7 linked regions of the Homo sapiens genome follow. The protein of the gene in region 5 interacts with the protein of the main gene of each other region in a pairwise test. Each region holds a gene or a part of one and is shown on either strand. Other genes may lie near its edges. The genes, in order: TBC1D22B, PTPMT1, COL26A1, MOB3C, SIAH1, SPATC1L and M1AP.

The links.
Region 1: the proteins of SIAH1 (region 5) and TBC1D22B interact in binary tests that used the Homo sapiens proteins (3 or more experiments, as listed by UniProt).
Region 2: the proteins of SIAH1 (region 5) and PTPMT1 interact in binary tests that used the Homo sapiens proteins (3 or more experiments, as listed by UniProt).
Region 3: the proteins of SIAH1 (region 5) and COL26A1 interact in binary tests that used the Homo sapiens proteins (3 or more experiments, as listed by UniProt).
Region 4: the proteins of SIAH1 (region 5) and MOB3C interact in binary tests that used the Homo sapiens proteins (3 or more experiments, as listed by UniProt).
Region 6: the proteins of SIAH1 (region 5) and SPATC1L interact in binary tests that used the Homo sapiens proteins (3 or more experiments, as listed by UniProt).
Region 7: the proteins of SIAH1 (region 5) and M1AP interact in binary tests that used the Homo sapiens proteins (3 or more experiments, as listed by UniProt).

The regions. Positions count from the first base shown.
Region 1 is NC_000006.12:37,284,532-37,289,184, forward strand, and holds part of TBC1D22B (TBC1 domain family member 22B), read left to right. Parts: intron 1-2,475; coding exon 2,476-2,541; intron 2,542-4,653. UniProt on the Homo sapiens protein: May act as a GTPase-activating protein for Rab family protein(s).
Region 2 is NC_000011.10:47,568,112-47,571,945, reverse strand, and holds part of PTPMT1 (phosphatidylglycerophosphatase and protein-tyrosine phosphatase 1), read right to left. Parts: intron 2,247-3,834; coding exon 2,055-2,246; intron 476-2,054; coding exon 317-475; 3' UTR 1-316. UniProt on the Homo sapiens protein: Lipid phosphatase which dephosphorylates phosphatidylglycerophosphate (PGP) to phosphatidylglycerol (PG).
Region 3 is NC_000007.14:101,556,611-101,560,088, reverse strand, and holds the end of COL26A1 (collagen alpha-1(XXVI) chain isoform 1 precursor), read right to left. Parts: intron 2,720-3,478; coding exon 2,559-2,719; 3' UTR 1,065-2,558; downstream 1-1,064.
Region 4 is NC_000001.11:46,610,121-46,614,569, reverse strand, and holds part of MOB3C (MOB kinase activator 3C), read left to right. Parts: intron 1-1,198; 5' UTR 1,199-1,248; coding exon 1,249-1,666; intron 1,667-4,365; coding exon 4,366-4,449. UniProt on the Homo sapiens protein: May regulate the activity of kinases.
Region 5 is NC_000016.10:48,378,270-48,382,922, reverse strand, and holds part of SIAH1 (E3 ubiquitin-protein ligase SIAH1), read left to right. Parts: intron 1-4,653. UniProt on the Homo sapiens protein: E3 ubiquitin-protein ligase that mediates ubiquitination and subsequent proteasomal degradation of target proteins.
Region 6 is NC_000021.9:46,163,333-46,167,885, reverse strand, and holds part of SPATC1L (speriolin-like protein), read left to right. Parts: intron 1-4,553.
Region 7 is NC_000002.12:74,644,770-74,650,194, reverse strand, and holds the start of M1AP (meiosis 1 arrest protein), read left to right. Parts: upstream 1-1,864; 5' UTR 1,865-1,930; exon of another isoform or gene 1,931-2,858; coding exon of another isoform or gene 2,859-2,920; intron 2,921-5,086; exon of another isoform or gene 5,087-5,107; intron 5,108-5,425. UniProt on the Homo sapiens protein: Required for meiosis I progression during spermatogenesis.

The sequences.
Region 1 (4,653 bases), on a different chromosome or scaffold from region 5:
TCTCAGGGTACAGGCTTTCCAAGTCTTCAGGCTGTGGTATATTGGTTAGGAGTTAAATTTATCCTCAAAACTGTTTCCCCTCTTTTCATTCAGCAACTCTGATTTTAGCCATTTTAAATAGACAGACTTTTTTGGCACTAGTCAGTGCACTGCTTCTCAAACTTTAATGTACATACAAATCACCTAGGATCTTGATAAGATCTCACCTAGAGATTATGAGAAAATGCAGATTCTGATTTAGCAGGTCTCAGGTAAAGCCTGAAGTTCTGATGTGCTCCCTTGCAATGCTGCTGCTGCTGGTCCACCAACCACACTGTGAGTAGTAAGCGTTATCGAGCATGGAGAGGAAAGACAAGCTTACCTAGCCGTGGTCCAGTCCCTCTGGACTATGACATCAGTATGTCTTCCTGGCAGCTGCACTGCTGTTTTGGCATCTGTGACTGTAGGAGCTGTAGCTTTCAGTAGTCTTGTCAGGGAGTCTTCTGTCATTGCCCATAATGGTCCTCATGGTCTGCGGAAAGGTCTGCTCCCAACATCACATGTGGAGGGAGGAGAAGAGTAGGCCAGGGGTTGCAGAAAGTGGAAGGTGGGCAGCTATTTACAACAAGCCTCAAGAACTGAAGTAGCCTCTGCTGCTGCTGCTGCTGACACAGTCTTTTGCATAGTTAGACTGGGCACTGGGAAATCCCTGAGTTGAAATGGACTATAGTGATGTCTTAGGTAACAGAAGTAAGAACTTTCAGCTTCAGTTACTGAAGGCCAACTCCTTTTGGTCCTTCCCCACTTTTTTTTTTTTTTTTTTTTTTTTTTTGAGATGGAGTCTCACTCTGTCGTCCAGGCTGGAGTGCAGTGGCGTGATCTTGGCTCACTGCAGCCCCCACCTCCTGGATTCAGGTGATTCTCCTGCCTCGGCTTCCTGAGTAGCTGGGATTACAGGCATGTGCCACCAGGCCCGGCTAATTTTTTCTTTATCTTTTTTGAGACCGAGTCTTTTTCTGTCACTTAGGCTGGAGTGCAGTGGCGCAATCTCGGCTTGCTCCAGCCTTTGTCCGCTGGGTTCCAGCGATTCTCCTGCCTCACCCTCCTGGATAGCTGGGATTACAGGCGCACACCACCACACCCAGCTAATTTTTGTAATTTTAGTAGAGATGGGGTTTCGCCATGTTGGCCAGGCTGGTCTTGAACTCCTGGCCTCAGGTGATCCACCCACCTTGGCCTCCCAAAGTGCTGGGATTACAGGTATGAGCCACCATGTAATTTTTGTAATTTTAGTGGAGACGGGGTTTCACCATGTTGGCCAGGCTGGTCTCAAACTCCTGACCTCAAGTGATCCACCCGCCTCAGCCTCCCAAAGTGCTGGGATCACAGGCGTGAGCCATCGCCCTGGCCCTTCCCCGCTTCTTACACATCATGACTTCATAAGCAAGTTCATCTCTGGTTCCCTATTTTAGGACATTTTTGCAGCTTTCTGAGCTCTTCTAGTTCTTAGGAACTGTTGATGAGTAAGATTCTGAAAGATGGGTACCTACTTGGATCATACCTGCTACATACATGCCAGCCCAGAGTGAAACAGACTTCAGAGCAATAAGAAAAAACCCTTAATCTGTGAAGCCTATTGCCATTTGACTTTAGTGGTTTCTTTTGGGAGGTTTCCTCACTGTTTAATAAGCTATTGTTGTCATGGAAACATGTTCCACATGGGCAGGTAGGTATAACTAGATTTTTTTCCTGTGTCAGTCACTTCTTTCTGAAGATAAATTGTGTTTTCTTACTACTTTGATTTCCATTTCTTTTTTTTTTTTGAGACAGAGTCTTGCTCTGTCGCCCAGGCTGGAGTGCAGTGGCCCGATCTCGGCTCACTGCAAGCTCCACCTCCCGGGTTCACACCATTCTCCTGCCTCGGCCTCCCGAGTAGCTGGGACTACAGGCACCCGCCACCACGCCCGGCTAATTTTTTGTATTTTTAGTAGAGACAGGGTTTCACCGTGTTAGCCAGGATGGTCTCGATCTCCTGACCTCATGATCCGCCCGGCTTGGCCTCCCAAAGTGCTGGGATTACAGGCGTGAGCCACCGCACCCAGCCAGATGATTCCCATTTCTTTAAAAAAAAATTGTCAAAAGAACAAACTGGGCCAGGCACGGTGGCTCACACCTGCAATCCCAGCACTTTGGCAGGCCAAGGCGGGTGGGTCACCTGAGGTCAAGAGTTCGAGATCAGCCTGGTCAACATGGTGAAACCCCGTCTCTACTAAAAATGCAAAAATTAGCCAGGCCTGGTGGCAGGTGCCTGTAATCCCAGCTACTTGGGAGGCTGAGGCAGGAGAATCGCTTGAACCCTGGAGGCAGAGGTTGCAGTGAGCTGAGATAGTGCCATTGCACTCCAGCCTGGGGGACAAGAGCGAGACTTCATCTCAAAAAAACAAAAACAAAAAAAAACTGGCATTTGTGTTTTTGGACATGCCTTCTCTTTTTCAGATTCACATTGACATTCCAAGGACGAATCCTCTCATTCCGTTGTTCCAGCAACCACTTGTACAGGAGGTGAGGGAATTACTTAATGTTCTTTGGCGCTTCTCCCCGCATAGTTCTGTGGCACCTGTTTACAGGTTTGCGGCTAATCATAATAGTACCTTATGTTCATATATGCAGCTTTGGTTCCTTCAGAGCATGGTTTCATACATTTTCATTTGATCTTTGTTACAAATCTGTGAGCGGAATAACACTTTGAAAGGCTAAGGAACTTGCTCAGAATTTTGAGGCTACCTGGTGGCAGAATGAAGAACCCACATCTTAGAATTCCTATTCCTGTATTTGCTCTACTTTATCAAGCTGGAAGTAGTGATTTTTTAAATTGTGGTAAAATATACATAATATAAAATTTACTGTGTTAACCATTTTTTAGTGTACAGTTCAGTGGCATTAAGTACAGTCACGTTATTGTATGACCATCATCACCATCCACTTCCAGAACATTTTTCATCTTCCCAAACTGGAACTCTGTATCCATTAAATATTAACTCTCTTCTGCAGCCTCCATTCTATTTGTCTCTAAGAATTTGACTACTCCAGGCAGCTCAAATAAGTGGAATCATACAATATTTGTCCTTCTGTGACTGGCTTATTTCACTTAGCATAATATCTTTAAGGTTCATCCCTGTTGTTGCATGTGTGAATTTCCTTTTTTAAGGCTGAGTAATATTCCGTTGTACATATGTAACACATATTGTTGAGCTGTTCATCTATCAGTGGACACATGGGTTGCTTTCACCTTTTGGCTATTGTGAGTAATGCTGCTGCTAGTATGGGTATGTGAATATCTGTTTGAGTCTCTGTTTTAAATTCTTTTGGGTATATATTTAGAAGTGGGAGTAGTAGTTATATTTTGAGACCTAACAAGTTAATGAAGTACATGGAAGGTGTCAGTGGGGCTATTATGTTTTGACTCAAGCAGTAACTGTAAACTTCTTAAGATTAGGGATTTCCTTTGCAACTTTACAGTAGCCAGGACACTAAGTACTAGTGCTCTTTTAACGGAACTTTCAGTTCTCATAGTAGAGAGGGATGGTGGTTAAAATGCTGAAAATAATTTCTATTTGACTTTGGGTTATATTTATAATTTTGTTTAAATATAGATGTCTCCACTGGTGGGGTCCCTCATGTCTTACCCATAGCATAAAGAAGATTTTGAAGGTAACATCATTATTTTAACTATAAGATTCAGCTCACAGGAAGCTAAAAACCCATTCATGATCCCTTTATCCTCCCATACAGTTTTCCATGGCTCAGCACTGCTTATTCCTCATTTTAACTTGGAGATGTTCAGAGACTTTTCTTTTACCTGTGCATGCTTACTCTGAATTTGGAGATGAGGAAAGTAGTCAGTTTAAAAGGCTTCTCAGCCAGGCGTGATGACTCACTCCTATAATCCCAGCACTTTGGGAGGCCAAGGCCAGAGGGATTGCTTGAGCCCACGAGTTTGAGACCAGCCTGAGCCTAGGAGTTTGAGACCAGTCTGGGTAACATAGCAAGACCCTGTCTCAAAAAAATTACAGAATTAGCCAGGCATGGTGGTGTGTGCCTGTGCTACTGTGCCTGTGCTACTTGGGAGGCTGAGGAGGGAGGATCTCTTGAGCCCAGGTGGTCAAAGCTGCAATGAGCCATGATCGTGCTACTGCACTCCAGCCTGGGTGACAGAGCAAGATCCTGTCTCAAAAAAAAAAAAAAAAAGAGGTTGGGGGGTGGTGGCTTCTTTTAGTAGTGCATCCTGAATACAATATGGGAACTCAAACTTTATTCTCCCCAATTTTTCCTGAATGACCATTTCATCTAGCAGGCTACAGTCATCTTTTAAATTTTTTTTATTTTAACTTTTTAAGAGACAGGGTCTCACTCTGTCACCCAGGCTAGAGTGCAGTGGCATGATCATAGCTCACTGCAACCTCTACTCCCCGGGCTCAAGCAGTCCTCCTGCCTCAGCCTCCCAAGTAGCTGGGGCTGCAATCATGCACCACCACACCTGGCTAATTTTTTTTCTCATAATTTTTTGTAGAGATGGGGTCTTGCTTTGTTGCCCAGGACTGGTCTCGAACCCCTGGCCTCAAGCAATTCTTTCTGCTTCTGCCTCTCAAAATGCTGGAATTACAAGGCGTGAGC
Region 2 (3,834 bases), on a different chromosome or scaffold from region 5:
AAATATTATTAGGCACAATATTAGGTACATAATAGATTTTTGTTAAAATACTTCTTTAGCCCTATTCAAGAAAAGATGATAGCCCCATCCCTGTCCTGTATCCCATGAATACAAGCCACACTAAATCTTTTCCTTTCTAGCCACACAACAGTGTTATTTCAAGAAAACAAAACAAGTCAGAGAAAGAAAAATTACCTATTACCTATTGGCACATTTCTGTTACGTCAAGTCTGGGCTTAAGCCCTGTTGGTCCTGTTAAGCTCTTTTTGTTCTGTATCAAGCAGGAGTGTCTTGAGTTCTTTCTAATCCCCATACATCATGTCTTTGAAATGACAAAAGTCCCATCCTTTGTTGCCCGTGCAGTAATCTGCTTGTGGAACTCTTTAAGAACATCCAGCTGGCCAGGCCTGATGTGGATGTATGACCGGATCTTGGCGATGGCTCTTACAGCCTCCTCTGGACTCCATTTGTGCACCTGAAGTACAGGGTTGGGAAATCAGCAGAGAAAGAAAGAAGCAGGTGTCAAGGTGCCCTTGACCCATGAGCAGGTGCTAAAGGACTCTGAGATTTCATTTCTTTGGAAACTCTATTTTGCAGGCATTAAAAATCATGCTGCTTGTATTATAAATGGGAGAGTACTGTAACCACTGCAGTCAGCCAGTCTCACAATACTATGCAACAGGTCAGGTGGAAAGTCAGTCTTTCTACCCAATTCTTGCTCTGCCAAATCCTAGAAAAAGGAAGTTGCACATGGGAAGCTGAGATCCTAAGTTCAAGACTGCCTCAGCCTACTCCACGTCCTCTCCGAGCTGGGCTTTTGGTTACAAGAATTTCTAGGAACGAGTATGCAATAGATGTTTTTATGCAACTTGTCACCATGGCTAGAAAAACAAGTAACTCATAATTTAAATAGGAGGGTTAACATGTCCTAAGGATACTCATTGGTTTAGAACTCAACAGAACCAAGAAAATACAGATTTCTAACTTGCTAGTTCAATTCTCACTTGGTGCAAAATACCCTCCTGAGACCCTGCTTCCAGCAGAGCCCTTATGACCAAAATTTTAATATTACTCAACTATATACACACTAGTCCACAGTAACACAAGGCCAGACTTAGCTATTCACATGACTTAGAAAATGCTCTGTGGGAGCCAGACATTTTGTAACTTAGGTTACAAAATGATGATGGACTACAGGGTATTTGTTTCTCCTAAATATTTTTAAAGCATCCCACCTGCCAATTATGACACATTAATAGGCAGAATCCAGTTTGGAGCCTGTTTCCAGAAACTAATATCCAGAACTTTACTCTGGAATACTTGAAGAAACTTGAGTACTATAAAGCTGAAAATGATCAGCACTATTATCTATGATATTGTTTCCTGACATGGTATTAGAACAAGTGTCTAGCCTTTTGCTGGGGTTGAATGGCTTTTGCAACTCCGTTTTTAGAGTGCCCGCTATAGGCCAGCACTTGATGTAATTTCTTATTTAAACTTCATAATACATTTAGTTTGAGAAAACATGTTGCATAAGGCAGAAGTCACTTTTGCTGATCCTCACTGGCAGGCAGCAGAGCCCCAGGTTACCCTGTCACAAGGCTCAGGTGCTTTCCATCATACCAAACCACCTCCCAACAGCCTGAAATCAAGCACACAGCTCCTTCCAACAAGGCCCACCAGTAGACCATGCTATTGAAGTTCTGGAAATCTGCTATAAATGGGACCAGAAAGACTTTTTTTTTTTTTTTTTTTTTTTGAGACAGTTTCACTCTGTTGGCTATGCTGCAGTGCAGTGGCACAAATCACGGCTCACTGCAGCCTCTACCTACTGGGCTCCGGTGATCCATCTCAGCCTCCCAAGTAGCTGGGACTACAGGTGCACACCACCACACTGAGCTAACTTGTTGTATTTTTTGTAGAGACGGTTTTGCCATGTTGCCCAGGCTGGTCTCAAACTCCTGGGCTCAAGCCATCCTCCCATCTCAAGCCTCCCAAAGTGCTGGGATCATAAGTGTGTACCACGATGCCCAGCCCAGAAAGAACTTTGGTACCTGAATCAGGTATGCTGCCACCATAGTGGCACTCCTGGAGCGCCCAGCCTTACAATGCACGTAAACACACTGGCCCAGCGACTGGTACTTGAGAGCAAATTGGACTCCCTTCTGGAGGTTGTCCAAGGTGGGGATCCCAGTCATGTCTACTGTGCTGAGCCGCAGCTGCTCGACTCCTAGTCTCTTCCACTCCTGGAACCAGGTCCACCAGTATGAAAAAGAGAATGAAAAAAAACTATGTGGGTGGGATGATAAGGGGCTCCCAAGAAGCAGCAAAGCAACAAGGAAGTTTCAGGGTTTACTACAATGGGAATACACTGTTGCCTGTTTTCTAAAATAGAAACTTCTTACAGAAATGCTTTTTTTTCCCATTCCAGGTGAGGACAGAAATGTCTTTAAAATGGCTGGCCTACATGGTTGGTTTTTCATCAAGCAACAGCTATGCTGCTGAGTTAGAATTATGTCCAAGATTTAAAGTGTTCCTTTTTTTTTTTTTTTTTTTTTTAAAGACAGAGTCTCGCTCTGTTGCCCAGGCTGTAGTACAGTGGCGTGATCTCAGCTCACCACAACCTCCACCTCCCAGTTTCAAGCGATTCTCCTGCCTCAGCCTCCCGAGTAGCTGGGACTACAGGCACGCGCCACCAAGCCTGGCTAATTTTTGCATTTTTAGTAGAGACGGGGTTTCATCATGTTGGCCAGGCTGGTCTCGAACTCCTGACCTCAGGTCATCCGCCTGCCTCAGCCTCCCAAAGTGCTGGGATTACAGGTGTGAGCCACCACACCAGCAGGTAAAGTGTTCTTAAACTACCCTTTGGGTACTTGAATATTTAGCTGCAAGATATTAGCTATATACATTTTAGCTGCAAAAAATTCAGCTGCAAACGTCTTAACATTTTATTTTGGCCGGGCATGGTGGCTCACGCCTGTAATCCCAACAGTTTGCAAGGCCAAGGCGGGCAGATCACCTAAGGTCAGGAGTTTGAGACCAGCCTGGCTAACATGGGGAAACCCTGTCTCTACTAAAAATACAAAAATTAGCCATGCGTGGTGGTGGATGCCTGTGATCCCAGCTACTAGGGAGGCTGAGGCAGGAGAATTGTTTAACCCTGGAGGGAGAGGTTGCAGTGAGCAGAGATCGCACCATTGTACTCCAGCCTGGGAGACAAGAGCAAAACAACATCTCAAAAATATATATATATTTTATTTTAGAGACACGATCTTGCTATGTCACCCAGGTCAGAGAGCAGTGGTATGCAATCATGGCTCCTTGCAGCCTCAAACTCCTAAGCTCAAGCAGTCCTCCCACCTCAGCCTCCCAAGTAGCTGTGACTACAGCTGCATGCCACTGTGCCTGGCTAATTTTGTTATTTTTGTGTGTGTGCAGATGGGGGTCTCGCTATGTTGCCCAGGCTGGTCTCAATCTCCTAGCCTCAAGCCATCCTCCTGTCTCAGCCTCCCAAAATGCTGGGATTACAGGCATGAGCCACCAGGCCCAGCCAGTGTAATTTTTTTGCATAATTTTGGCACCTGTGTAGTGATTCAGCTGCAGATTTGGGGTACAATATTTTGCCAAGGCTTTCTATTTCTCTGTCCATAAGTCTCTTTTTTACCACTGTTTTTTGAGGGAACATATGGTAGAAAATAGGGTTATCATTTTAAAATTAAAACAATGGGCCGGGCATGGTGGCTCATGCCTGTAATCCCAGCACTTTGGGAGGCCAAGGCGGGCGGATCACGAGGTCAGGAGATTTAGACCATCCTGGCTAACACGGTGAAACCC
Region 3 (3,478 bases), on a different chromosome or scaffold from region 5:
TGATTGTGAAGCCTCCCCAGCCACATGGAACTGTAAGTCCATTAAACATCTTTTTCTTTATAAATTACCATAAATTACCCAGTCTCGGGTATATCTTTATTGGCAGAGTGAGAACAGACATAATACACAGGGCAAGAGCTTAATACCTACAAGGGTCACAGGGTGATTCAGCAGTGGTTTGGGTCTCTGTGTTGTACCTGGGACTTGTCATCAGGGTATATGGGTCTCCCTGGGGTCTCTGATATGTCACTGACCCCAGACCTGGACAGGAGCATGGAGCAGGATCAGGGTTGCTCCTCCAAGAGCCCTGAGGCCGCCCCAACTTAACTCACCTTCTTGCAGAGCTGGGGGCCAGGCCCAGTTTATAGACAGTGTGGTTGGGTGGAGGGGTGAGGTGGCCTCTGAAGGGGCTTCCCTCACCCTCTGGAGGTAAGAAACAGATCTTGACTCTGGAGGTAGGGCTCAGACACAGGACCAAATTGAGGACTAGCCAAAACAGGGACAGAGCGGAAGCATCTTTCCATTGGACACGCCCACCAGTGTGCCATGTCAGTTTGCCATCACCATGGCAACACTCAGGAGCCACTGCCCTTTTCCATGGCAAAGACCTGATGACCCGGAAATAACCACCCTTTCCCTAGAAATTTCTGCATAAACCAGCCCTTAATCTGCATGCAATTAAAAGTAGGTATAAATATGGTGCAGAACTGCCCTGAGCTGCTATTCTCTGCCTGGGGAGAAGCCCTGCTCTGCACGAGCAGTCATGGAGCTGTAGTCCTGCCCCTCCAATAAAGCTGTTTCTCTTGCCTCCAGCTTGCCCTTGAATTCTTTGCTGGGTGAAGCCAAGAGCCCTTGCAGGTTAAGCCCCAATCCGGGGCTTGCCTATCGTGTGTCACTCCCAGCCCCCTCCCTGGAGGTCCTGAGGGCAGAGCTGGACCTCCCTGCCACAGAGGCCCTGTGGTCACCCCGGGCCTGGCTGGAGCTGCTCACAGCTTCCCTGGCACCTGGCCGGTAAGATGCAGACCAGCCTCCTGCAGAGCTGTCACCACACAAACAGACCCACAGTGGGGAGAGCACCTTTATTGTCACATATAATAATAACGCTACAGGCTGGTGGTCCCGCCCGCCTCTGACCACCCCTCCATGAAGACAGAGACTGCCTCTCCAGACCTGCCTCAAGGGCCAGAAGAAGATCCCAGGGCCCAGAGGGACCAGGCCACAGCCAAACAGGAGTACCAAGAGCACTGGAGACAGTCACTCCTGCTGTGAAGACAGAGTGCCCCAGGGTGGCGCCAGCACCTTCAATTCTCTGAGTTTGCTGCCGTGGCTGTGTCCCAGGTCCCAGCCCAGCAAGAGAGGAACACCAGGGCTGAGCTGATCACGGAGACCCTGGCCCCAGAGGCCTTGAGGGCTCCAGTCAGAGCTGTTCTGGGCTGCTAGGGACCTGGTGCCTGCCATGGAGCCTGCCAGGCCCCCAACTCTGGAAGGTGGGAGGCAGGAGCATCTCTTCCCAGCAGGCCTGGGACTCTGTTTCCCTCTCTGCAGCTTGCAAAGGGGACACTGGGCTTGCTGTGTCATGCAAAAGTAGCAAACCTATAGAGTCCACTGAGAGACAAACTCGTGGGGCAGAGGCTGCAAGTCCCACCTCTGATAGACATGCCCATGAAATGCTGCCTCCCCTGGCTCAGGGATGGGATGGACCCAGAGAGAGCGGGTGGGCTCAGCAAGACTGGGAGGCAGTGGCCAGGGATGCCTATCTGGTTTGGTGGACACTTGCACCCCCAATGCTTCTCTCTCAAGGTCCTCAAGTCCGTATGGCTGGCAGTGATTTATTCAGGGTCTCCCTGGCCTCTGAGAGCTGCAGTCCAGGCTGCTCCCCCAGCCAGTGGGGAAGGGGGATGAGGAAGGGAAGCCCCAGGCCCTGCAGGACCCTGCCTACCCCCTCAGGCTGGCTGGCCCAGCCTCCCCGCAGCCCTGCCTGCCTTAAGGAGCCGTTCTGGCCCTGCGCCCTCCCTGTCTGAGTTTTCTCTCGAAGAGGGGAAGCTGGCAGGGTCGAGAGAACATGGCTTCAGGAACTGAGGGTCCTGGGTTCAAATCCTGCCCCTGCCACCCGTGATCTGGTGGCCAAGAGAGGGTTATTTCTACCGTCTGAGCCTCGGTCCCCTTGTGAAGTGGGGATAATAAGCTTACCTCCTAAGGGTTAAATAATGAGACAACGTAACGAAAGTTCCCTGGACAGGGCCAGTTACAGCAGGGACTCAATAAATGATGGGTATTAGGATTATTCTCATTCCCAGCACCCAGCCCACCCAGACCCCGTCTCCAGCCGGGAGTGGGGGTAGGGGAGGGGACAGGCCAGAGGAGGGCTCTGATGAGGGTGTTGGCCCCTCCAGACCCTGCCCCTGGAGACATTATCTGTCCCCAAAGCCCCCCATGTCCTCACAATCATCCATGCCTGGAGCCCAGTTCCCCTGGGGGCATCTTTAGGAAACAGCGGCGGCTCAGGCCTCTGGGGCTGGGTCTCTAGCCAGGACAGGGTGTCCTGGAGCAGTGGGCTCTCACTTCCTGCTGCTGGCCTGGTCCACGCTCTTCTGTCCAGGGTCGGGCCCAAGCAGGGCAGCAAGGACCCCATCGGGTTGGGCGCCACCCCTCTTCATCTTGAGGTTGGCTCTCAGGGCAGCATCCTGGCCAGAACCTCCCTCTGGGGAGGCCAGGGGATCTGGAAGGAGAGCAGGAGGGTGGACTCGAGGTAGAGCCTTAGGAACACTTGGGGGTACATTTGATCATGATATGTGGCCACGGAGAGATGCTCTTGCCCAGCGTGGAGAAGCAAGGCAGCAGCAGGCTTTCAGCCCCTTATGCATTCATTCATTCATGGATCCATGCATCCATCCATTCATTCACTCATTCACCCATCCACCTGTCCATTGACCCATTCATCCATCTGTGTATCCACCCATTCATCCATTCACCCATTCATCCACCCACTCAGTCACTCATTTATCTATGCATCTATCCATTCATTCACTCATTTACCTGCCCGTCCATCCATCCATCCATCCATCCATCCATCCATCCATCCATCCATCCATCCACCCATCCATCCACTCACTTATCCACCCACCCACCTATCCACTCATTGATTCATCTATGCATCTATCCATCCATCCATCCATCCATCCATCCATCCATCCACTCAGTCATTCATTTATCTATGCATCTATCCATTCATTCACTCATTTACCCATCCATCTATCATCCATCCATCCATCCATTCACTCACTTATTCACCCACCTACCTGTCCACTCACCCGCCCATCCACCCATTCATTCATTCATCCATGCATCTATTCACTCATTTACCCACCCACCTGCCCACTTATCCATCCACTCATTTATCCACCCACCTGTTCACTCATCCATCATCCATCCATCCATCCATTCACTCATTCACCCACCCACCTGTCCACTCATCCAT
Region 4 (4,449 bases), on a different chromosome or scaffold from region 5:
AATGCAATTCTTAGCTTATACTCAGCCTTAGTGCTCAGTCTAGGGGCAGGGGCAGTGTGCTTAGTGGGTGGCTAAATTCTAGTTTTGGTAGGTACATGGGTCTGCATTTCCCAGTAGCTCACACACTCACAGTTGAGATGAGATGACTCAGGTCTTAGAAACCTAGCTATAGCAGAGTGACCCAGGACCTGGATGGGCTAAATCCATGGTGATACAGGGGTCACCCAGTAAGCCAGTGGTAGAGCTGGGACTAGAACCCAGGACTCCTGCCTCTGAGCCTAGGGCCCTGATCACTGTCTCCCAAAATTTGTTCTGAATCTGGGATCCTTAAATTCTAGGAGGCAAAGTAAATTTGCCTGAGCTCTAGATGGGCCCTCCTGGGTGCATCTGACTATACTCTTCTACCTCCCAGTGCCAGGCACATAGTAGTTGCTAGAGGAATGTCTACTGAGTGTCAGGTGCAACGGGAGGAGCCAGTGGCTTGTTCAGATTTGGGGCTGGAGGAGGCTGGCTTGAGGGGAAGGATCTCCAGCTGTTGTCAGAGGAAGCGACGCCCTCATTGGCCTGCCGCCCTCCCCCTCCTCCAGTGCTTGCAGCCACACTCAGAAGCCGCCCAGCTGGCAGCGGGAGGGCCCTTTCCTCTTTCAGGGTGAAAAAAAAGGAAAGGACATTTTTGGTAGAAAAGTTCCCTGCTGCTCCCTGGGAATCCCCGGTGGCCGGATGGACTACGGGATATCCCAGAGGAAGCCGAAAGCCACCCCCGACCCCCCTCCACCCTGCCCCCAGCACAATGCTGCGAGGCTCTCCCACGTTGCACCAGCTGGCCAAGGGGGCTCCCAGAGGTCATCTCGTCCAAGCCCCTGTCTGCTGGTGGGCCTGCAGGGAGCCTCTGCGACCTCTCTCGTGACCAACAGCAAGTCTGAGGGGCACCTGTTTAGAGCCCAGGCCCAGCTCTGCAATGAAAGCAGAAAAGAGACAAAGCAAGATGGGAGGACTGTGGGGGCTTAGCAAGGGGGACTAACATAGCCTGGAAAGAGGGCGGGGCACTGGACCTAGGGGCTGAGGACTTAGATTCCAGGCAGAGGATGCAGAGGTTGAGCAAAGGCTGAGAGGTGACAGGGAAATGATGAATTGGGAAGTCAGAGCCCAGATGATAAGGCCTTGACCGCCAGCTCCCCTATGCCCTTGTCCCTGGCAGGGTATCCTCAGGTCCGAGCCCCTGGACAGCAGCCCCAGGCCCAGCTGGCCATGGCCCTGTGCCTGAAGCAGGTGTTCGCCAAGGACAAGACGTTCCGGCCGCGGAAGCGCTTTGAGCCGGGCACACAGCGCTTTGAGCTGTACAAGAAGGCACAGGCCTCTCTCAAGTCGGGCCTGGACCTGCGCAGTGTGGTGAGGCTACCACCCGGGGAGAACATCGACGACTGGATCGCCGTGCACGTGGTGGACTTCTTCAACCGCATCAACCTCATCTACGGCACTATGGCGGAGCGCTGCAGTGAGACCAGCTGCCCGGTCATGGCCGGCGGGCCCCGCTACGAGTACCGCTGGCAGGACGAGCGCCAGTACCGGCGGCCCGCCAAGCTCTCTGCGCCGCGCTATATGGCATTGCTCATGGACTGGATCGAAGGCCTCATCAACGACGAAGAGGTCTTTCCCACGCGTGTTGGTGAGTGTCACCTGGCGGGGAGGGAGCCACTGGGAGCCCATTCCACAGATGAGGATTTAGTTTGATATAGACACTCTGCAGGGTTGGGGGTTGATTTTCATCCCCATTTTGTGGAAGAGGAAAGCGAGGTTGAAACAGGTTAAGTGCCTTGCTCAAGGTCAAGCATTTGCTAGGACTTCCTGACTCCCAATTTGGGGCTTTTCTTTCTTTTCTTTTTCTTTCTTTCTTTCTTTTTTTTTTTTTTTCTTTTCTGAGACAGAGTTTCGGTCTTTCACCCAGTGGTGAGATCTCAGCTTACTGCAACCTCTGCCCCCCGGGTTCAAGCGATTCTCCTGCCTCAGCCTTCTGAGTAGCTGGGATTATAGGCACCCACCACCACGCCTGGCTAATTTTTGTATTTTTAGTAGAGACAGGGTTTCACCACATTGGCCAGGCTGATCTCGAACACCTGACCTCAGGTGATCCACCCACCTCAGAGGGCTTTTCTTTTCTAAAGCATAAGTGGTCCCACCAAGGACCACTCTGGCAAGACCACAGATGCTGTGATTCTCAGAACCTTCCAGAACAGTTGCCCCGAGGTGTTCATAGCTGATTTGACCTCCAGCCTCCCGGGGTTCCCTCTGACTCCTGGCCTCAGGAAAAGGAGGGAGTTGGTGGTTGGGTGGGCCCTGGTGGTATCATCACCTCAGATTGGGGCTCTGAGGACAGAATTTTCCCTTGCCAGGCACAGGCTGTGGGGCCTTTTCTTATCTCAGCTGGGCAGCCTGGGCGGGTGAGGGTAGGGAGGGGAGATGAGTGATGTCACCCAGGCACTGCTTACCCACCCGAGGGCAGCAGGAGGGGGTTGTTGGTCCAGGAGCTGAGCAGGCATGACACTGTGTTCATCACACCAGCCGCACCTGTAGCTGGGCCCAGCCCCCACCTGGCCTGGAGCTCATCTCTGCAGAGGCTGTGTGGATCAGCGGTGGGTGGGGCAGGGTGGTCAAGCCCTGAGGGGAGAAGTCTGAATGCTGAAGGAAGCTGGGCACTGAGTCACAATTCAATGCCCACGGCTCCTCCCCAGCCAGTGGCCTGCTGTTTCTTGCACTGTCATGCCCGACAAGGAGCACCTTCATTTTACATAGGAGGAAACTTGAGGCTACTGAGGGAAAGTGCACTGAACTGGGAGGAATTCCGAACTGGGGCTCAGATCTGTGGGAGCCCAGGACCCCAAGTCTACATGGGCAGGATATGTCTGAGGAATCTGGGCTGGGCTGGAGGGGCTCAGAGGGAGGGAAGGCTCGACCCCACCTGGGAATGGTGAGGAAGAGGAGGGGGTCTACAGAGCCGGGTGGGCCAGCTGTGGACCTGAATGTAGATTCATAGTCCCTGCTGGCCATACCTCCCTGGGCCTGTGGGACTCCAGGTATCGATGCCTAAAACCCTGGGTGACTGCCACACAGAGAAGAGGGCATAAGCCACCAAGATCTCTGCCTTGAGCATGGGGGACTATGCAGAAGCGGGGCCTTTTTCATGGGTCCCAATATCTGTGAGGGTCGCTGCAGTGCACTGCAAAGAGGGTCTGAATCCAGTCTCCATTCTGCACTGATTAATACTTATGTGGCCTTGGGCTAGCAGCTTCACCTTTATAAGCACTTCTGTTTTATCATATCTAAAGTGACAATCAGACACATCAGGCGAATTGTTCTAAGGATTAGAGGCAAAAGGTGTGAAGGGCCCAGCACAAGGCCTTGCTCATAAATGGAAGGTTCTTCGTGTTGTTGAATATTTGAAGGAATGAGGGCTGTCTGAACTAACTCTTGCAGAATTCATAATTTCCAGGATTGGGGGTCTGAGGACTTCTGTGTGAATGTTGAAAAGAGGAGGGACATGGGGTGGGGCTAGAGAGGGAGGTCAGGATAAGATCATGAAAGGCCTTGAGCAGCGTCCTGCTGGAAAGTTAGGACTTAATCCTGAAGGCCCAGGGATTTTTTAAATGGACCCAGTTGTTGAACTCTCCTTGGAGTTGTATACAAGAGTGTGATGTGAGCATCTCTGCAATTGCACATATTTCTGGGGAGAGTTTAGGTCGTAACTTTTATCATAGTCTAAAAAGGGTTGGTCAGTGACCCCCACAAGTTTGCAAAGCCCTGCTTTAGGTAATGGGAAAATGTGGAAGATGATGTATATTCCAGCAGGGGAGAGCCACAGTCAGATTTGTGCTTCATTAGAAAGAAAAGTATGGCCAGGCACAGTGGCTCATGCCTGTAATCCCAGCATTTAGGAGGACGAGGCAGGTGGATCACCTGAGGTCAGGAGTTCAAGACCAGCCTGACCAACATGGAGAAACCCTGTCTCTACTAAAAATACAAAATTAGCTGGGCATGATGGCACATGTCTGTAATCCCAGCTACTTGGGAGGCTGAGGCAGGAGAATACCTTGAACCTGGGAGGTGGAGGTTGCAGTGAGCCGAGATCATGCCATTGCACTTGCCTGGGCAAGAGTGAAACTCCGTCTCAAAAAGGAAAGAAAAAAAGAAAGGAAGAAAGAAAGAAAAGTATGGGAGAAAGTCAAACCACTCTCTGTTTTCCAAAGGGAAGTGTACTAAAAAGTGTGCTGGGGAAAAAGCCATCCTGGTTGCCTGTGTGTGGGAGGGAAAAGTTGAGCAGAGCTTTGGCACCAGGATACTGATCCCCTTCTGCCCTCCCCTGCCCTCTAGGAGTTCCCTTCCCTAAGAACTTCCAGCAGGTCTGCACCAAGATCCTGACCCGCCTCTTCCGAGTCTTTGTCCATGTCTACATCC
Region 5 (4,653 bases):
AATAGGATTTTCAGTGAGTATGGTGTTTTGAAAACAGATCTTACATAACTAGGGTAACAAAGTTTAGTAATTTACAGAGTTTTAGGTGACTGCTTAAATTGTATTTTTAAGCAGTTGATTTACAAAATTTTTAAAGATTGGAGGTTCTTTGTTTAAAGAGATTTATTAACAGAATTTTGTGGAATTTCCATATTCGCTTTGTGAAATGTTAAAATCTAGATATTTTTTGTACAGCCCTCTCTTTCAACAAAATCTGTATGAAATCCCCAGAACCTTCCATCCCCCCGCCAAAAAAGGAAATTTTCCTTTTTACAATAAGTATCCTTAATAGTATTCTTCAAAATAGCAGGATGTCTAATGCACTTTAAATGATTTAGTTCCCATGGCTATAGTTACTAGAATATCTGCTGCATAAGGGCAAGAATTGTGTTTTTAATATATATCCTCAGTACCTAGTGCTCAGTAGGTATTTGTTTACTCACCTACTACTGTGCGTATTCTAATGACATTCAGATCTTTATTTTTATTTTTATTTTTTTTTGAGATAGTCTTGCTATGTTGCCCAGGCTGGAGTGCAGTGGTGATGTCATAGCTTATTGTGGCCTCCAACTGGGCTCAAAGGTTCCCCCCACCTTAGCCTCATAAGTGGCTGGGACTAGGAGCATGTGCCATCACACTGGGCTAATTTTTTAAAAAGTTATTTTGTAGAGACCAGGTCAGGTCTCGCCATCTTGCCTAGGCTGGTCACAAACTCCTGGGCTCAAGTAATCCGCCCACCTCGGACTCCCAAAGTGCTGAGATTACAGGTGTGAGCTGCTGTGCCTGGCCTCCAATCTTTTTGCCTGCTGAGATGTAGACCCATATATCCCCTTATGCAGATTTTTTTAATTGACTTTATTTTTTAGAGCAGCATTAGGTTCATAGCAACTTGAGTAGAAGAGACAAGAGATTTCGCGTGTAGCCCCTGCCCCTACACGTGTAACCTCCTCCATTATCAACATTCCCCGCCAAAGTGGTACGTTTGTTACAATTGAGGAACCTACATTGACACACCATTATTACCCAAAGATTATAGTGGCGTACATTTTATGGGTTTAGACAAATACATAATGACATACATGAATGCTTTCACCACCCTAGAAATCCTCTGACTTCCACCTATTTGTCCCCACACCCCCAACCACTTATCTTCTTTCTTTTATTGTCACCATAGTTTTGCCTTTTCCAGAATGTCATATGTGTAACTGGGCTTTTAAAATATGTAGCCTTTTCACATTGGCTTCTTTCACTTAGTAATATGCATTTAGGTTTCCTCCACGTCTTTATGGCTTGGTAATTCATTTCTTTAGGGCTGCATAATAATCTGTTGTCTAGATGTACCACAGTTGGTTTATCCATTCACCTACTGAAGGATGTCTTGGTTGGCTTCGAAGTCTTGGCAATTCTGAATAAAGCTGCTGTAAACGTCCATTTGCAGGTTTTTGTGTGGCCATGAGTTTGTAACTCCTTTGGGTAAATGCCAAGGAATGTGATTGCTGGATCAGATAGTAAGAGTTTAGTTGTTTTGCTGCTGTTTTTTTGAGACAGTCTCACTCTGTGCCCTGGGGTGGAGTACAGTGGCACAATCTCAGCTCACTGCAACTTCCACCTCCTGGGTTCAAGTGATTCTCGTGCCTCAGTCTCCTGAGTAGCTGGGATTACAGGCGCCTGCCATGACGCCCAGCTAATTTTTGGATTTTTAGTAGAGGCAGGGTTTCAACATGTCGGCCAGGCTGGTCTTGATCTCCTGACCTCAGGTGATCTGCCTGTCTTAGCCTCCCAAAGTGAAGAGTATCTTTAGTTTTGTAAGAAATTGCCAAACTGTCTTCCAGATTGGCTGTACCATTTTGCATTCCTACAAGCAATGAATGAGCGTTCCTGTTGCTCTGTATCCTCGGCCGGATTTGGAGCTACCACTGTTCTGGATTTTAGCCGTTCTTTTTTTTTTTTTTTTTGAGACGGAGTCTCACTCTGTCGCCCAGGCTGGAGTGCAATGGCGTGATCTCGGCTCATTGCAACCTCCACATCCCAGGTTCAAGTGATTTCTCCTGCCTCAGCCTCCTGAGTAGCTGGGATTAGAGGCATACACCACCACGCCCGGCTAATTTTTCTTTTTACTTTTAGTAGAGACGGGGTTTTGCCATGCTGGCCAGGTCAGTCTCGAACTCCTGACCTCAAGTGATTCGCCCACCTCGGCCTCCCAAAGTGGTGGGATTACAGGCGTGGGCCACTGCGCCTGGCCTGTAGTGGTATCTTACTGTTTTAAATTTGCATTTCCGTGATGACATGTGATGTGGAGCATCATTTCATATGCTAGTTGTTATCTGTATATCTCTTTGGTGGGGAGTTAGTTAAGGTCTTTTTGACTCTTTTTTTTAGGTTGGGTTGTTTTGTTATTGGTGAGTTTTTGTTTTTTTTTTGTTTGTTTTTTTGGAGACAGAGTCTTACTCTTGTCCAGACTGGAGTGCGGTGGCGCCAACTCAGCTAACTGCAACCTCCGCCTCCCAGGCTCAAGCAGTTGTTCTCGTGCTCAGCCTGCTGAGTAGCTCCTGAGTAGCTGAGATTAGAGGAACGAGCCCACCGTGCTCGGCTAATTTTTGTATATTTAGTAGAGACGGGGTTTCGCCATGTTGGCCAGCCTGGTGAACTCCTGGCCTCAAGTGATCTGCCTGCCTCAGCCTCCCAAAGTGCTGGGATTACAGGCGTGAGCCACCGTGTTCGGCCAGGTTTGCATATTTTGGATAACAGTTCTTTTTTAGATACGTCTTTTGCAGATATTTTTTCTGTTCTCTATCTCAAAGCTGGCATTGCCTCTCTTCTTCACATTTACATTCATTTCCTTCTACCTTTAAGAGATCTCCTTTTGGTCTCCAGCCTTACAGTCAGTTTTCCTACTGCAGTTTAAGTGAGCTTTCTAATAGGTGAACCTGACTTAAAAGGCTTTCAGTGTAAAGTTCTAAGTTCTTGATATGGTTCGTAAGTACATAGCCTCTCCTGAGCTGGCCTCTCTTGTTACTCCCCTGCCATTTTGGACTTTACTTGCAAGCCCCTCTCATCCTATTAAGCTCTCTTATCTCAGCCTGGACATCACTAGCTGAGAAGCTCTTTGTGAACTCTGCACATTGAATTGGATGTCATCTCTGTGTTCCCATAGCACTCTGCTCGGTCCCACTGTAACATATCCTCCTGAATTATAATTTTTCTTTAGTTGTATGCCTCCCCAGATAGACTGTAATCTCTATGACGACTTGGTCATCCTTGTGTCTCAAGAGTTTAGGACTCTTTCTGGAACATAGGTGGTGCTCAGTAAAAAGTTATTGAGCGACTGACTCCACACTGTCCTTATTAAACTCTTCTAGCCTTTTCGTTGTGTTTTGTTTTTACCAAGGCATAGTGTTTCTTACAAACTTCTCTAGCCTTATTGCCTGTGTTTCCCCTTTGCCCTACCTAGGCCAACTGGGTTCTTTTGTTCCTTGAACACTGCTTTAGCATCTCTGTGCCTTTGGTCATGATTGTATTTAGCCTCTGAAATGTCTATTTGTGCTACTTTGGGTAGATTACTGAACCTCTCTAAGCCTTAGTTCTATTAGTACATGAACAGTTATTAAGTATATTGCTGTTCCCTGCCTTCCCCTCGCCCCCCCAGCCCCCATGTCCTAATGCTAGAGTGTCAGTATAATTAAGTGGCTAAGAGGACAAGCCCTTAAGAGTCAGATCTGGATGTGTCTCTTGGCTCTATCACTTATTAGTTGTGTTTGTGACTTTAAGTTCCATGAGAGCAGAGACACTGCCTACTTTGCATCTAAAAGCACATTGCCTAACACAGCAAGTGTTGTAAAAAGATTAGTTGTTGAGTAAGTTACTTCTCTAAATATTACCACTTACCTTCTAGTGAGGAAAGAAAGAAACAGAATTACAAATTGTGAAGTGTACTGTAAAGGAGTCAAAGTGCTGAAGAGACCAGTGGGGTGGAAGGGAGACCTGGTGTCCAAGGATAAGGAGCTCGCCCTTTGAAGGGGGAAGGAGTACATCTTAGATGGAAGATGCAGCCAGATAAAGGCCCCATGAAGTAGGGATGAATTTGGACTGCTCTAGGACCTGAGGAGTGTTGCTGGAGCAAATGGGTAGTAGAGAGAGACAGGTTGAAGAACTGTGCAGAGGGAAAGAGAGGAGAGATGCTGTGAAGTGTTAGCTGATATTAGCATCTGGCTGTTGTTCAAGGAGATTCTAGGAGAATACCTAGAGCAATATTAGGACTTTTATTTTCTAAATGTAAACTATTTTGTTGACATTTAGCCTAAATACATATGGAAAAAGTGCTCAAATCATGTGTACAGCTTGACATTTTCACAAAAGGAACGCTATTGTAACCACCTCCCAGATCGAAGAAACAAGGAGCCGCCCCCTTCACAGGAAACCACCTCTTGACTTTTTACACCATAGATTTATTTTGCCTAATTTTGTGCCTTATATGAATGGAACAGTAGAGTTTGTACTCTTTCATTCTTTTGTTGTTGTTGTTGTTGTTTTGTGACAAAGTTTCACTCTTGTTGCCCAGGCTGGAGTGCAATGGCACAGTCTTGGCTCACGGCAACCTCCACCTCCCGGGTTCAA
Region 6 (4,553 bases), on a different chromosome or scaffold from region 5:
CCCAAGGTCACACAGATTCTCTCCTGTGTGTTGTTCTAGAAGTTTTATAGTTTAGGTTTTACATGTAGGTCTCTGATCAATTCCAAGTTAATTTTCATATATGGTGTGAGGTTTGCATGTAGATATCCACCTGAGGCTCAGGCCAGCCTCCCACCTCAGCCTCCCAGGTATCTGGGACTACAGGTGTATGCCACCAGGCCTGGCTAATTTTTTGGTTTTTGTGTTTTTGTTATTGTAGAGATGGGATTTTGCTACGATGCCCAGGCTGGTCTTGACCTCCCGGGCTGAAGCAATTCGCCTGCCTCGGCCTCCCAAAATGCTGGGATTACAGGCATGAGCCACCATGCCTGGCCTGTCAATTTTATTTATCTTTTCAAATAACCGATTTTTTGTTACATTGATCTGTTGTATTGTTTTCTTCATTTAAATTTCATTTATTTCTTCTCTGATCTTAATTATTTTTCTTCTAATTTTGGATTTGGTTTGCTCTTGCATTTCTAGCTCTGTAAGATGAATCATTAGCTTATTTGAAGTTTTTCTACTTTTTTGATATAGGCACTCATAACTATAAACTCTTAGCACTTACAGCTATAGCTCTTAGTATGGCTTTTGCTGAATCTAGTACATAGTAGGTTTTGGTGTGTTGTGTTTCCATTATCATTTGTTTCAAGACATTTTTAAAATTTCCTTCTTAATTTCTTCACTGATGCACTGGCCATCCAGGAGCGTATTGTTTAATTTCTATGTGTTGGTATAATTTCCAAAATTCCTTTTGTTATTGATTTCATTTTATTCCATTATGGTCGGAGAAGATACTTGATATAATTTCAATTTTTTTGATTTTTAAAGACTTGTTTTGCAGCCTAGCATATGGTCTATCCTTGAGAATGATCCATGTGCTAATGAGAAGCAGGTGTATTCTGCACCTGTTGGATGAAATGTTCTGTAAATATCTATCATGTTCATTTGGTCTATAGTATAGATTAAGTCTGATATTTCTTTGATTTTCTGTCTTAAAGATCTGTCCAAGGGTGAAAATGCGTATTGAAGTCTCCAGTTACTATTGTACTGGGGTCTGTCTCTCGATTTAGCTCTAGTAATATTTGCTTTACATATCTGGGTGCTCCAGTGTTGGGTGCATATATATTTATAACTGTTATATCCTCTTGCTGAATTGACCCCTTTATCATTATATAATGACCTTCTTTGTCTCTTGTTATAGTTTTTGTCTTGAAATCCACTTTGATATAACTATGGCTGCTACTGCTCTTTTTTGGTTCTCATTTGCATGGAATATCCTTTTCTATCCCTTTATTTTCAGTCTGTGTGAGTCTTTATAGGCGACGTGTGTTTCTTGTAGGCAGCAGATGGTTGGGTCTTGTTTTTTTTTTATCCATTCAGCCACTCCGTCTTTTGATTGGAGAGTTTAGTCTATTTACATTCAAAGTTTCTTGGTTGTTTTTGACCAAACTCACATACTATCATTCATCGATTTGACTGTGCTGTAATTTTTTTTTTTGGAGACAGGGTCTCACTTTGATGCCCAGGCTGGAGTGCAGTGGTGCAATCTTGGCTCACTGCAACCTCCGCCTCCTGGGTTCAAGTGATTCTCATGCCTCAGCCACCCGAGTAGCTGGGATTATAGGTGCGTGCCACCACGCCCAGCTAATCTTTGTATTTTTAGTAGAGATGGGGTTTTGCCACATTGACCAGGCTGGTCTCAAACTCCTGACCTCAAGTGATCCGCCCACCTCAGCCTCCCAAAGTACTGGGATTACAGGCATGAGCTACTGCACCTGCCTATTTACATTCAAAGTTATTATTGATAAAGATTTACTCCTGCCATTTTGTTATTTGTTTTCTCATTGTTTTGTGGTCTTCCCTCCTCTTTATCTAGAAGAGTTTGTGTTGAATTGGTGTTATTTATTCCTTAAGTGGTAGAATTCACCGCTGAAACTACCCGAGCCTTGAATGGTCTCTGTGGGAACATTTTCCCCCTACAAATTCCATTTTATTGATAATGTCAACTGAAATTAAGGCTGTTGAGACAAATAATTCGATAAAGGTTTATTGGAAGCCAAATGTGAGGATCAACCCAGAGGAACACACCAACAAAGTTGAGAGTGTTCTGGAATCTAAGTCAGAAGGTTTCTATAGGAGAGGCTAGGAGGAGGGAAAGGACTCCTCATACTCATGTCTAAGTCAGAAGGCTTCTATAGGAGAGGCTAGGAGGAGGGAAAGGACTCCTCATACTCATGTTGTCCTTTTCTAGTCAGAAGGTTTCTATAGGAGAGGCTAAGAGGAGGGAAAGGACTCATACTCATATCTAAGTCAGAAGGCTTCTACAGGAGAGGCTAGGAGGAGAGAAAGGACTCCTCATACTCATGTTGTCCTTTTCTTTGGAGGGTACAACACAGAGGTTACAAGCATTGGCTACAGATGACAACATACAGGTCAACACATCTCTGTGCAAGACAGTCAGTAAACCTTTATGATTCAGGAATAAATCAGCATCTTTTCAGTCCATTAATCAGCACATCAGCAATCTGAGGAAATCATGATAAGATTCTTTACTCAGGGACCATTAATCATAAGACCTTCCCAAGCAGGCCAGTTTGGAAGTCTGTTTACTTTTAAACTGTCAAATGTGACCTGTAAGGTTATCAGATATAAGGCTATTCAGAGTATCTATTTCTTCTTGAGTGAACTTTGGTAGTTTGTGTCTTTTAAGGAATTGGTCAATTTCATCTAGGTTGTCAAATTTATTGGCATAAAGTCATTCCTAATACTTCCTTATTATCCTTTTTATGTCTGTAGAATCTGTGGTAGTGGCATCTCTAATTTCTGCTAGTGGTAATTTTTGTCTTCTTTCTTTTTTCCCCTAAGTCTGGCTAGAGGTTTATCAATGTATGGCCTTTTTCCTTTGAAGAACAGGTTTTTGGCTGGATCTTACAGAGCCCAGGTTGGACTAGAAATCATTTCTAGAACCTATACTAGAATCATTTCTCTTCTATAGGATGTTTCTTCTACCTCATTTTTGCCTTGGTGGGGGGATGGGAGAAAGAGCTTGATTCTTTTTTTTTTTTTTTTTCTTGAGATGGAGTCTCGCTCTGTCGCCCAGGCTGGAGTGCAGTGGTGCGATCTCGGCTCACTGCAACATCCACCTCCCGGGTTCAAGCCATTCTCCTGCCTCAGCCTCCTCAGTAGCTGGGATTACAGGCACCCGCCACCATGCCTGGCTAATTTTTGTATTTTTAGTAGAGATGGGGTTTCACCATGTTTGCCAAGCTGGTCTCGAACTCCTGACCTTGTGATCCACCCACCTCGGCTTCCCAAAGTGCTGGGATTACAGGCATGAGCCACCGCACCTGGCCAAGAGCTTGATTCTTGATGAGAGAAATACATTGATACAGAAGGAGGAGATTACACCTGCTCTTCCACACCCCTCATTGGCCCTAACACACTTCTGTGCAGTGTGTTGACATACCTCTTCTGCAGTCTTGAAAAGTGATTGGGAAAGAAATACACTGAAAACTACAAACATCACTGAAAGGAATGAAAGAAGACATAAATGACCAGGCACAGTGGCTCACACCTGTAATCCCAACATTTTGGAAGGCTGAGATGGGCAGATCTCTTGAGCCCAGGAGTTCAAGACCAGCCTCAGCAACAGGGCGAAACCCCATCTCTACCAACCCCCCACCACCCAAGTTAGCTGGTCGTGGTGGTGCATGCCTGTAGTTCCAGCTATTCAGGAGGCTGAGGTGGGAGGATCACTCAAGCCCAGAAGGTAGAGGTTGCAGTGAGCTGAGATCGTGCCACTGCACTCCAGCTTGGGTGACAGAGCGAGACCCTTTCTTCAAAAAAACAAACAAACAAACAATAAATAAATAAACAGAAAAACACCTTGTGTTCACAGATTAGAAGACTTTATATTGTTCAAAAATCAATAATTTTGATATGGATTACATTGGATCTGCAGATTCATGCAATCCCAATCAGAATCCTAGTGGCTTCTTTACAGAAATTGACAAGCAGAAACTGAAATTCATATAGAAGTGTAAGGAACCAGAATAAGTAAAACGATCTTGAAAAAGGAGAACATTGAGGGACTCATACTTCCCAGTTTCAAAATTGACTATAAAACTTACAGTTAACAAGACTGTGGTACTGCCATAACGATGGACATACAGATCAATGCAATGGAATGGGAAGGTCAGAAATAAAACTGTACATAGATGGTTTTCAACAAGAGTGCCAAGACAATTCAGGAGGGACTGAATACTGTCTAACGCGTGGTGCTGGAACAAAGAGGTATCCACATGCCAAGGAATGAGGCTGGGCCTTACTCCACACCACATACACAAATTAACTCAAAATGGATCAAAGACCTAAGAGGTCTCAAAGAGCTGAGGCCAGAAAACTTGTAGAAAAGACATAGGGGTAAATCTTCGTGACCTTGGATTTGGCAATGGATTCTTAGAGATCACATCAAAAGCATGAGCAAAAGAGAGAAACAGACAAATTGGACTTCATCAAAAGTAAAACAAAAC
Region 7 (5,425 bases), on a different chromosome or scaffold from region 5:
ATCCACCCGCCTCGGCCTCCCAAAGTGCTGGGATTACAGGCGTGAACCACGGAGCCCAGTCGTGGCAGTAGATTTCTAAGGCAGCAGCTGATGCCCTTGGTCAGTTACACTCCTTGTAGTTTAAAGTCTGCAAGGTGCTTTCTCATGACCATTATAGTTTATCACCCTCAGAAAACAATTCTTATGTCATAGTCCCCATTTCTGGTACAGTTCTTTGCATATTTTTAATAAATGCTATAGAGGGTACGGAAAGAAATTAATAGTAGGTAGGAGCAATGGGTGGTATGGTTTGGAGTGAGGCTAGTGCTCAAGTTTGAATGCGTCCCCCAAAGTTCATTTGCTGGAAACTTAGTACCCAATGGAATAGTGTTCAGAGGTGGGGCCTAACAAGAGGTGATTAGGCCATAAGGGCTCTGCCCCCATAAATGAATTAATGTCATTATCTTGGAAATGAGTTAGTTATTGAGAGAGTGGGTTTGTTGTAAAAGTGAGTTCAGCTCCCTATTGCTGTCTTGCTCTTTTGTACCCCTTGCCCTTCTGCCTTCTGCCATGGGATGACACAGAAAAAATGCCCTCACTAGATGTGGGATTCTCAACCTTGGAATTCCTACCCTCCAGAATTTAAGAATACATTTCCTTTATTTACAAGTTAGTTGTTCTGTGGTATTCTGGTATAGCAACACAAAGGGGAGTAAGACAGGTAATGCTGGGGTTGAGCCTAGTAAGGTAGGTGGGGTCAGTTATAATGGACCCTCTAACCGAAAAGGAAACATAAGCCATTTTTAAGACAAAGAATGATATGATCAAAATATTTTTACAAGGACAATTCTAACATCAGTGGAAACGATAATCTGGAGATTAGAGACAGAAAGGCTAATTTGGACTATATGGGGGGAAAGAGCTGTTGAGAAGCTACCCTTTAAACTGAAACACAGGAACTCTATTGAATATCAGATTATAGTGTTTAAAAAAGGACATAGGTTAAATAGTTCTGTTCTTACCTGAGGAACAGTTGATAGGAGCAAAATGGTTTAGTGGGACTAGAATACAAGCAGGCAACTCTTTTCCTGTTGAAACATCTAACCTATCCTGTGCCACTCATTGAAATATTGCCCCACCCCACCTCCAACCTGCATCTAGACAATGAACTGAGAAAATAACAATAATAATAATAAAGAAAACAAGGAAAACTGCTTGTACATTTCTAGCTTGGAACTAGCATTATCTTTCCCTCTCCTGTGGACTAATTCAGAGAATTCCTTTTTAACCAGAGTTGAAGACCCAGACCAACCAACTGTTAAGGACCAGGACGCTCCTACCCCATCTGGAGTTCGTCAAAGGGACTATGGGAATCAACCTCAAGTAAGCGAGAATGAGTATGAAGAGAGCGACAGACCCTCTTGGAATACAGGAGTTTGAAAAGACTTAAAAGAACTTTGTGAAGGCAGCTATAACTTCCATGAGGGCAGTGACCATTGTCTGTACATCCACTGTACTCCAATCCTAGCACAATGCGTGGCACATAACGTGCCCACCACAGATGTTTAGTGAACAAAATAGCGACTGGCTGAAGGAAATGATGTGGAAGGGAAAAGTTAAAACCAAGAAAACGGTCGGTGGGGGAGCTACTGGCATGTTTCATGGGAAGGGGTAGAAAAAGAAAAATGTCAGGTTTAGCACAGCATTTCCAACAAATAGACAAAATTCTACCTAAGGGACAAAGAAGGACTGTTCTCAGGGTATCTAGGGACTTGGAGACCGTTTTCCTGAAGCGCCACCTGAAGCGCACCCTGAGGCAGCCAGGCCCCGCCTTGCCCGCAGTGAGCCTCCCGCCCAGCCGCGCCGGCCTGAGGGGGGCGCCTCCGAACGCGCGGGCGCACGCTGAGAGCCGGGAGGACCAGGTGAGGGGGCCTCCGTCTTCCGAAGACAGGTACGGTTCTCCACGCCTCGGGGAGGGAGGGCAGCCCGAGAGCAGCCGGCACCACTTCGCAGGCTGGGCTGGGCGTGGGCCGAGCTCGGGCCAGTCCTCAGGCAGGTGTTGGTTGCGCTGGCCGTGGCGGGTGCCGGCGCAAGACTGACGCCGAGAGAGGCTCCGAAATCGCTGTCGGAGTCATCCCTCCGCATACTGTTCTGGGCGGCCAGGCCTGCGCGGAGTCTGGGCCCGGAGCTTCCTCCGCGGGGCCCCCAGGCCCGAGGGCCGGGCTGCTGATCCGCCAGGCACGGTAGGCGCCATGCCGAGGGACCACGGAGGCTTCAGGGAGCCACGAGAATTTTTTTTCTTCTGGTTTTGCTTTGTTTTTGAGACGGAGTTTCACCCTTGTTGCCCAAGCTGGAGTGCAATGGCGTGATCTCGGCTCACTGCAACCTCCGCCTCCCGGGTTCAAGTGATTCTCCGCCTCAGCTTCTCGAGTAAGCTGGAATTACAGGCTCCCGCCACCACGCCTGGCTAATTTTTTTATATTTTTAGTAGAGACATGGTTTCCCTATGTTGGCCAGGCTGCTCTCGAACTCCTGACCTCGTGATCCGCCCGCCTCGGCCTCCTAAAGTGCTGCGATTACAGGCGTGAGCCACCGTGCCCGGCCACGAGAATGTTTTCATTTCGTTTAAAGTGAACCCATGAAGTCAAAGAAAGTGTTTTGATTTTTTTCTCACATCAGGAGGGGGAAATGAGATTTTTAGGGCCTACAAAATCCATTAACTTCTTTTAATCTTTTTTTAATGGAGGAAGGGGTCCACGAAGACGAAAGTGCCTTAGGGCCCACGAAATCTTTAATAGGGCCCTGCCAGAGGGAGAACCATTGAATCGTTTATCACGCGACAAAGTGAATGAGGGCTTGTAAAGGGGCCCTAACCTAGAATGCTCAGCACGGAACAGAACATCCGCAGAGGCAGACACAGCGAGAAGCCGATCTGTGAGAGGTGGATCTCCCGGGGTGCGGGCAGGGGAGGGCCTAGTGTGAGGATGGAGAGTTGGGCAGAAGGCACAAGCAGAACTTTAGGGCCAGGGTAAAGATATTGGATTCTGTTTCCAGTGGTGTAATTGGAAGTCCTTGGAGGGTTTTTAGTTTGGGCATAACTTGGTGGTTTGGAGTGGTTCAAGGCCCAGTTCCAGTTTTAACCAGTTTGCAGGGAGAATTCATTAAGCGAGTGTTCTTGGCAAAAGTGGAGAGTATAGGGTCAGAATAAGGTCAGAGCCTGTTTAGTACTATGCCCAGACACATCAGATGCATGAATTGATGATGTTTGAGGATGTAAGGAAGAGAGCTGCCTCTTACCTCATTTAAAATACAGTCTTCCAATTGCACATTAGTGTGGGATTGAAAAATGACTGCAAGCTGAAACCATTCAAAGAGATCTTAAACACCAATGGGAAAAATTACAGTTGTTCTATAACCTTGAAAAATTGTCAAAACACTAAAACTTTCTTACTAACTGTATAGGGAAATGTAAAACAGTAAAACTATTTCATACACTAACTTAAAACATTAGAAACATTGAGAGCTAAAGTGTTTTATTTGTTGAAAAAAAACTCTCATAGTAAAACTTATGAGAGAGCAAACATTTTTTGTGTGTCTTGGCAAACTGACATACTTCTTTCTAAGTTTGGGTTAGTTTCCTACATTTTATCCTTTGTACCTTCAATTTTGTAAAATATCTCTGAAAGTTTCTTTAATAATGAAGCTTTTTGCCAGTGGCCCTTTCTGTAGGATGTCTTCATCCTTTTCATCACAATGACTTTCCTCAAGTATGTTGATAAGTTTGCCTTCACTAAATTCCTCTGGCTGCTTCTCTAGAGTCTATCAGGTGGAGGCAGTGTCAACACTCTCATAGTCAGCTGTTTCTCCTTTAACTCCACTTATGTTAGATTCAGATTTCACTCCTGGCATTATCATTTTTTATTTCTTTGCTGCTCCTTTTATCGGCTAGTTTCCTCTTTCAGTTTTTGTTTTTATAAAACATCACATGGGCTTATCACTAGGAGACAAGGAGGCGACACAACTACACACTTCTGTCTGTGCTTTAACTGACTAATGGATCTGCAGTGACGGGTCACCAACAGACTTTGAAAGAAGTGATATAATTAATTACTGATCATGATGCACTGATCACTATATTATATCAGTACGCTATATCAGTATACTATACTATTGATACTGATAACTAGTAATTCGTGAACTAAAGAGCTAGATACTACTTTATGTAATTACAGTTAATATTCCATGGTAACTGAAATTTGAACTGTGTTGTTGGAAGACTAGTGTTAATTAACTAAACTGTAGTAACTGAAATCTATATACTTGAACCATGCAAAATGAGGACTGCCTCTACTTTATTTTTTTATTTTTATTTTTTTCAAGGGTGAGCTGGTGATGTTAAACAGCAACTTTTATTAAAGCAGCAGTGTACAGCAGCAGCAGAGGTACTGCAACTGTGGAGCAGGGCTACCCCATAGGCAGTGTGCCCAGAATAGCAGCTCAGAGGTAGTTCAGCAGTCATAGTTATACCCAGTTTTAATTACATGCAAATTAAGGGGGAGTTGATGCAGAAATTTCTAGGAAAAGCATGGTAACTTCCAGGTCATAGAGTCGTTGCTATAGAAAGGGATGGTAACTTCTGAGTGTTGCCATGGCAATGGTAAACTGACAGGGCACACTGGTGGGCATGTCTTATGGAAAGCTGCTTCCACCCTCGCCCTGTTTAAGCTAGTCCTCAATTTGGTCTGGTGTCCAAGCCCTTCCTGCAGAGTTGAGTCCCGCCTCCTACCTCACTATCAAAACTAAACTCATACGTGCCTTATGGCCCAGCAATACTGTGTCCAGAATTGGTGGGTTCTTGGTCTTGCTGACTTCAAGAATGAAGCCGCGGACCCTGGCGGTGTTACAGTTCTTAAAGATGGTGTGTCCGGAGTTTGTTCCTTCTGATGTTCGGATGTGTCTGGAGTTTCTTCCTTCTGGTGGATTCATGGTCTCGCTGGCTTCAGGAGTGAAGCTGCAGACCTTTGCAGTGAGTGTTACAGCTCTTAAGGCGGCGTGTGTGGAGTTTTTCATTCCTCCCGGTGGGTTTGTGGTCTCCCTGGCCTCAGGAGCGAAGCTGCAGACCTTCACGGTGAGTATTACAGCTCATAAAGGCAGTGCGGACCCAAAAAGTGAGCAGCGGCAAGATTTATTGCAAAGAGCGAAAGAACAAAGCTTCCACAGTGTGGAAGGGGACCTGAGCAGGTTGTCCTGCCTCTACTTTAAAATGGCGTTTTCAGATGTGAGAGATGGAGATGGATAATTAAATTTAATTATACATTAAATAAGGCCTCTGACTACCTGTTTGTGTGAATTTCTCTGTGTCAGCTTCAAGTTCAGCATTCCATGTAGAAATTGGCCCCATGTACTTAAAGTACAGTTTAAAAATATGTTATGTGCTTTCTTGGTA